2 linked regions of the Homo sapiens genome follow. The protein of the gene in region 2 interacts with the protein of the main gene of each other region in a biochemical or structural test. Each region holds a gene or a part of one and is shown on either strand. Other genes may lie near its edges.

Region 1 (3,806 bases), on a different chromosome or scaffold from region 2:
TTCTATTCCTCCCCAATATCATGCCCTTTTATTTAAGTCTCAACCTCATTAGGTGAAATCTTACTGTTGCTTACTTCATGTCTCTGCTCACCCTGGTTCACACATACAGACTGGCTTAATTCATTATGAGCATTGTTTCAATTTGTGACTTTGAAAGTCTTAAAGGGAATTGATTGTGAGTCACTATAAATGATTATCAAAGTATGTTGAGCTTGAAAGTAAGTGATTTCAGAAGCTTAGCTCAGCTTCCTACCTATACACATACAGTCCTCTCTATTGTACCCCCAGAGTCATGTAGGATCATCTCTCTAAATGAGAAAATTCATCGACTAATACATTCATATTTTATAGTTCTGGCTGTGATGAAATTTAAGATCAAATGCATTTCCCTAAAATCGGTCCAGTTCTTTCCTCTAGAGGTGGGAGAGAGGCTTTTCTTTTATATCACGGCCTTCAGGTATGTCTCTTAATATTTAAGGCTCTTGCTGAAGCTGATAGTCAAGTAGGATCTCATCCTCATCATCCCAGTCTCTCCTCTGGGCTTACCCTTTTTGTCTATGTCCTCTGAAAGAGACACTCAATACTGATCTAATTTAGTCAATCACACATTAAGATCTCCTATTTGTACATCTTTTCATAACATTGCTTAGAGTTGCCTGTGTTGTGACAGTAATCTCATCTATTTAGTGGTTAAAGTCAACCAACAACTGATCTTTAATTTATATACAGTAGTCCCTCCTTATCCTCAGGGAATATGTTCCAAGGCCCACAGTGGATGTCTGAAATGGCACATAGTGCCAAAACCTATATACAGTATTTTTCTCATATACATACACATGATAAAGTTTAATTTATCAATTAGGCACAATAAGAGATTAACAAGTAATAAAATAGAATGATTATAACAATATGCTGTAATAAAAGTTATTTGAATGTGGTCTCTCTGTCTCTCTTCTCTCAAAATATTATATTGTACCGTACTCACTTATTTTCAGACCAAGGTTGACCACAGACTTAATTTCAGAAAGTGAAACTGCAGATAAAGGGGGACTATTGTACAAGGTAGAGACATGGGTTTAAGAGTTAATTTGAAAGACATATCAAATATGTAGCTCTACTAATTCTATCCCCTCTCTATCATTTCTCTGGTGTGTTAATTTTTTGGATTTTCAACTGTTTGATAAAAAATTCTCAGCTTAAAAGCAGTAAATTTGATGAATCCGACATGTCTTTATTCCAGTAAAAGACAGAATTATAACTCATCCTAGAACAGAACTTTCATACTGACATCACTTCCTTCTGCTTGACTTTGATCCATTAAATACTTAACTATGCTACCCAGAGAAGAATATAAATGATAAAAAATGCCTTGCTGAAGTGCAAGTTATAGTAGTTATCTTGCATTACCCTGAGCAGAATACTAAATATTTTGATCATTGGGGAAAATAAACAACTTCAAGGGAATATAAAATTTGCAAACTAGTAAATACAAAAGGGTTCAAATAGAACTCCTTGGCTTTTAAAAGAAAAAAAAATACCCAATTGTTTAGAAAGTTTAAGTCCTATTTCATGGCCACAAAAGAGACAGCAAAATCAGACCTAAATGGTAATCTATCTTTTGGATTCCTTTACTGTGAGGCATAAAAATACAGTTTTTATAAGCCAAAGCCAGGCTTTCTCTTTATAAAAGAAGAATTTGTCACAAGAAAGAGCTTATAATTAAAAAAAAATTTAATCAGAGAAATGGATTGGAAGAGCTATTAATCTAGGGATCTTTATACAATCAAAAGGTAGGATAAAATGTATTACAAAAGCTTGTGATTTCAATATTTATTTATTTGTTTTGAGCCACCTCTGGGTTAGAACAGTTGAGTGTTCACAGCTGGTAGAGTTCTCGTTTTCAAATACTTCAGAAGAAGTTCTTAGGACACCAAACAGGAGCCACAATGTTAGACTTCTGAATAGTCACCCTATAAGTAAAATGTATAAGGCTCTCCTCAGGCTGGGTTTGTTATTAATCCAAGATTAAAAGTGTAGTTCACAGACTACAACTGAGAGCCCAAAGACTCCTCATCCACCCACTTGGTCAGCGCCTCATTCATTCTTTGTCGAACTGTCAACACTGCCTCCAGTTGGCCACTGTTTGAGCACCTGAGCCGCACGCACTGGAGACACGGCAGTGCGTTACAGAACCTGCTCGTAGGGAGCTCCAGTAATCGGACATAAATCCTGAGTTCCATAGCCTAGCTCTTCTCTGGGTGGCTAATCTCACCTAACCATTCCAGTTTGTCAGACTGAGGACTTCTCTACTCAAAGCCTTAAGTGGCTTACTGCTGGCTCCCTATATTAAAATAAACCTCCTTAGGCCAAATTTCCAAATGATCCACAATAAGACCCACGTTGTTTCTAGCCCAACTATGATCTATTTTCCTACACACTTCAAAGACCCAACTCAAATTCAGATTCTTTACAAAGCTTTTAGCATCGATTTTTCTGTCTGCACTTGCCCTGTGCCCACCCGTGTTATCTTATGGCATGTACACAAGGACATAAGTGACACTCCTGCTTTGTATCCTGATCCCATCCCTTGTACCAGATTTAATCTCCTTGATCACAGATCATGTCTTATATTCTTTCCATAGTAACTGTGCTTTCAAGTGGTTGTTAAAGTTGCAGAACATGGGTTTTTATGTTTTTCTTTCTTTTCCTTTTTTGAGATGCAGTGTGGAAGGATAATGCTCAAGGGGCTTGCCAATAAAAATTCTGTTCTAGGGGATACCACATAGTTTGCAACATGAGCATTATTTGAAACTCATAAAACTTTTCTGTATAAATTTGAGGGGAGTGACAACCATCTAGGACCAATAATAAAGTCTAGGTAATTTAGATTTCTTTCTCTCTTTACATATTTCAGAGCAATTGTTGAAAGAGTTGAATATTTTTAAACATGCTGGCTTTACCAAGTAGAGATAAATCTATTTTTGACCTATGACTATAGAGTCAATAGATAAGAACATGTCAAAGCCTAACCAGCACATAATTAGATCTGTTAGCCTTCTTTTGGTTATCAGAGAGTATATATTTTGATGGTATTTATTACTTTATTGTTAGTTTAACTAAAACTTGAATTCCTATAAATAAAAAATTCTTAGACTTCATAAAGTCTAATAAAAATGAGACTGAAGATTATCCATGTTGTTTTCCATTTCCTTTTTTAGAACATTCTAGAAGTCTACAGAAGTAGATTATATAGGCAGTACTTCCTTGCCTATTCCAGTGGAATTCCACTTCATATCTTGAGTGCTTTGCTCTCTTTGAATATTACTTGTTTGAATGTCATTTATACTTGGGAAGTAAGTGTTCAGATACTGATTTATTTGAGAAAACATCACTAATGGAGGAGAGCACAAAGTTGACTACAAATCAAAAGGACCTCAGAGTTAGGATGGACCTGTCAGGATAATCTAGTCTAGTACTTTAAAAAGTTTATCCTCAGAACTATAACAAAAATTATGAAGAATGAAAGGTTCTATAGGCAAGTGAGTTAGGGCTCACTGCTAAAATGAATATTAAACAGGCTTCTCTCTTAAAGGCATTTTAGAATGCTACCATGCATTGTGATACTCATATGGTTAGGGTCAGAGAAGAATGCATGAAGTCCCTGCTCCTCTCCATCTCATTTGACCTGAAAGTTTTATGCAGTAAGGATTCACAGGCCTCAAATTCTCTGCAGAAGTCTGAAGGGAGAATTTTATCCAATCTTTGATCCATTGCTTCAACTCCTGTAACCTTGGTCACATAGGCTT
Region 2 (3,806 bases):
GTCCTAACACCCCCCAAAATACATATATGTATATTTAATAATGATCTCTACCTATATTTACATATAATACGCAATATATTATATTCACATATAATACGCAATATATTATATTCACATATAATACGCAATATATTATATTCACATATAATACGCAATATATTATATTCACATATAATACGCAATATATTATATTCACATATAATACGCAATATATTATATTCACATATAATACGCAATATATTATATTCACATATAATACGCAATATATTATATTCACATATAATACGCAATATATTATATTCACATATAATATATTCACATATATTATATATTATATTCACATATATCATATTATATTCACATATAATATATCGTATTATATTCACATATATCATATTTATATATTTGCATATTTTATATAATATTTTAAACTATTTGTATAAATATTTATATTTAAAATATTTGTATAAATATTTATATTTAAAATATTTGTATAAATATTTATATTTAAAATATTTGTATAAATATTTATATTTATGAATATAATGTGTTATTTTATATGTTATAGATTGTATAGGTTTTATATGTATCTAGGTTGTATATGTAAATATTATAAATAAATATTTATATTATTTAAATATGTATACACATATATTTCTTTTTAGCATCAATTCAGAACCAGCATTTGATTGAGAAATACAGTCAAGTTTGAGATGTCCTGATTTTTATTAAAGTACAACTTCCTTCATTTGAAGAAAAATAATCTGAACATATTTAATAAAAAATTATAATGCATTAAAAACGTGGTAAATGAAATGAGCCAGGCACAGAAAGACCAATACCACACGATCTCACTCTTTTTTTTTTTTTTTTTTTTTTTTTTTTTGAGACGGAGTCTCGCTCTGTCGCCCAGGCCGGACTGCGGACTGCAGTGGCGCAATCTCAGCTCACTGCAAGCTCCGCCTCCCGGGTTCACGCCATTCTCCCGCCTCAGCCTCCCGAGTAGCTGGGACTACAGGCGCCCGCCACCGCGCCCGGCTAATTTTTTGTATTTTTAGTAGAGACGGGGTTTCACCTTGTTAGCCAGGATGGTCTCGATCTCCTGACCTCATGATCCACCCGCCTCGGCCTCCCAAAGTGCTGGGATTACAGGCGTGAGCCACCGCGCCCGGCCCACACGATCTCACTCTTATGTGGAATATTTAAAAGTTGATCTTGGCTGGGCACAGTGGCACTTTGGGAGGCCAAGGAACGGGGATCATCTGAGGCTGGGAGTTCAAGACCAGCCTGGCCAACATGGTGAAACCCCGTCTCTATCGAAAATACAAAAATTAGCCAGGATGATGGTGCATGCCTGTAATCCCAGCTACTTGGGAGGCTGAGGCAGGAGGATCGCTTGAACCCAGGATGTGGATGTTGCTATTAGCCGAGATCGTGCCACTGCACTCCAGCTTGGGCAACAGAGGGAGACTTCATCTCAAAAAACTAAATAAAATAAAATAAAATAAAATAAAATAACATAAAAATAAAAGTTGATCTTATAGAATTAGAGAGTAGAATGGTGGTTACCAGAGGCTGAGGTAGTGGTGGTGGGGTGGGGTGGGGGTTTGTTTAGAGAGATGTTGGTCAAAAGACACAAAATTTCAGTTAGATGAGAGGAATAAATTCAAGAGATTGATTGCATAAGGTGGTGACTGTAGGTAATAACCATATACTGTATTCCTGAAAAATGCTAAAGTGAATGGAAAGTGTTCTCATCACAAAAATAACTATGTGAGGTAATACGTATGTTAGTTTAGTCATTCCATAACGTACATATATTCAAAATATCATGTTGTACCTAATACAGACATACAATTGTACCTGTCAATTTAAAAAATAAAAAAGTTTAAAAAAATCTAGGGAGTCAGCTGGTGTGGTGGCTCATGCCTGTAATCCCAGCACTTTAGGAGGCTGATGCGGGCGGATCACCTGAGGTCAGGAGTTCCAGACCAGCATAGCCAACAGGGTGAAATCCCGTCTCTATTAAAAATACAAAAAATTAGCAGGGCTTGGTGGTGCATGCCTGTATTCCTAGCTACTCAGGAGGCTGAGGCAGGAGAATCGCTTGAACACAGGAGGTGGACATTGCAGTGAGCCAAGATTGTGCCACTGCACTCCAGCCTGGGTGATAGGGTGAGACTCTGTCTCAAAAAAAAAAAAAAAAACCAAAAAAATCTAGGCAGTCAAGTGGCTGGGAACCAATGAGAGACTCAGGCACTATCAGGATCCTGGTATGAATTAGGCTTATTTAGTATATCAATAATAATTTGAGATAAGGGCAATTCTAGATACAAAAAGAAAGTTCTCATATATTGTAAGTATCAAACATTCCTTTATTATTGAACTATTTCTTAGTGTTAGATTTTATTAGAATTCTTTCATAGGACTATCTTACTAGAAAAACAAAAGCAGATTGTGTACCTTGAATCATTTAAAATAAGAGGTTTTAGTATAGTAATGTTCTTAACAAAATTATAATCATCTTGTTTATCAATATAAACTTATAATCTTAATTAGTATAATGTTTTGCAACTTCATTTTTTTGTGGCACATTTCTCTAATTTTGTGATAAAATATTTTACTTGTAAGCTTAAACTAATAAGAATATGTATGAATATTTTTGTCAGTAGTCCCCAAGTTATCTTTTAAAGTTTCCATTTAAAAAAATGAGTTATAGCTTTTAAATACTGTTAAAAGAAGTGTTACTTTAGTTACTTTTATTCAATAGTAGGTACTTTAGAAAACAAATATGTCATGTGGAAGAGATACCGATCATGTAAATAGGCTTACCTGATATTTGAGCATGTCAACGTTATAATATGTAGCCTGGGGTTTTTGTTCAGACACTTTCTTTAGGTGAGTCATCAAATTTGGCATGTTTACCCAGAATTCCTTGGTATTGGCATCATTTTGTGTATTATCACTGTTCATTTGGGAAGAAAAATGATTGAGTAGCATCTTAAAACAAATATAAACCCTACACGAAGCATCTTAGCAAATTGTCGTCTGATATGTACAGCCATTTTTTGACAATTTGTAGAGATTATTATGAATCTATTAACAGTAGTGTGGTTTTCATACAAATACAGTTCTGAATGCTATGGTGTTGGTAGATTAATATCCACGAGGAGGAGCTACTGTGTTGCTATCAATCTCAGTGAGTGCTCAGTAATATTAACTAATTGCGATGATAATTGGGAGCTTTAAAGAGTGAATTATTTATTAACTCAAACTTAATATCCCTTTCTATGAAACCAGCTTTGTCTAAATTAGTCAGTTAAGGCAATTAAGGAACTGAATACGTTTATTTACTTTTGAATTACTTTGACCAGTAGTTTCTCAGAAATTATCCAGTGAAATATTTGGCCAAATGTAAACATGGTCTTTATCACCAACTAAGCAGAAAAGAGTGATACTAAAATTACCATGCTGCCTTTTCAGCATTCATAATATTTCATCCATGAGCATTTAAATCATCAAAGATTTCACTTCACTTATAAGATGATCCTGGAGTTTAAATGATAATTTTGGTAGTTATAATACAGAAGAAGAGCAGAGTCTCTATAAGCTAAGAAGTTTTATATCCCTATGAGAGTCTTAGCTTTGCTCAGAGGCCTGTATACAGACCACTTACCCAATCTATCTTGCAAATGCTCATCTCAATGATAAAAAGAATCAGGCAAGAGTGTACAAACATATAACTCATTTCCCGTATAATGAGGAAGCTGAGGCCACAAGTGATTCAGTTACTTGTCACACACATT

What was found.
Region 1: the proteins of SGIP1 (region 2) and DAB2 form a complex in vitro, tested with the Homo sapiens proteins (one study listed by BioGRID).

The regions. Positions count from the first base shown.
Region 1 is NC_000005.10:39,383,459-39,387,264, forward strand, and holds part of DAB2 (disabled homolog 2), read right to left. Parts: intron 1-3,806. UniProt on the Homo sapiens protein: Adapter protein that functions as a clathrin-associated sorting protein (CLASP) required for clathrin-mediated endocytosis of selected cargo proteins.
Region 2 is NC_000001.11:66,732,907-66,736,712, reverse strand, and holds part of SGIP1 (SH3-containing GRB2-like protein 3-interacting protein 1), read right to left. Parts: intron 2,966-3,806; coding exon 2,833-2,965; intron 1-2,832.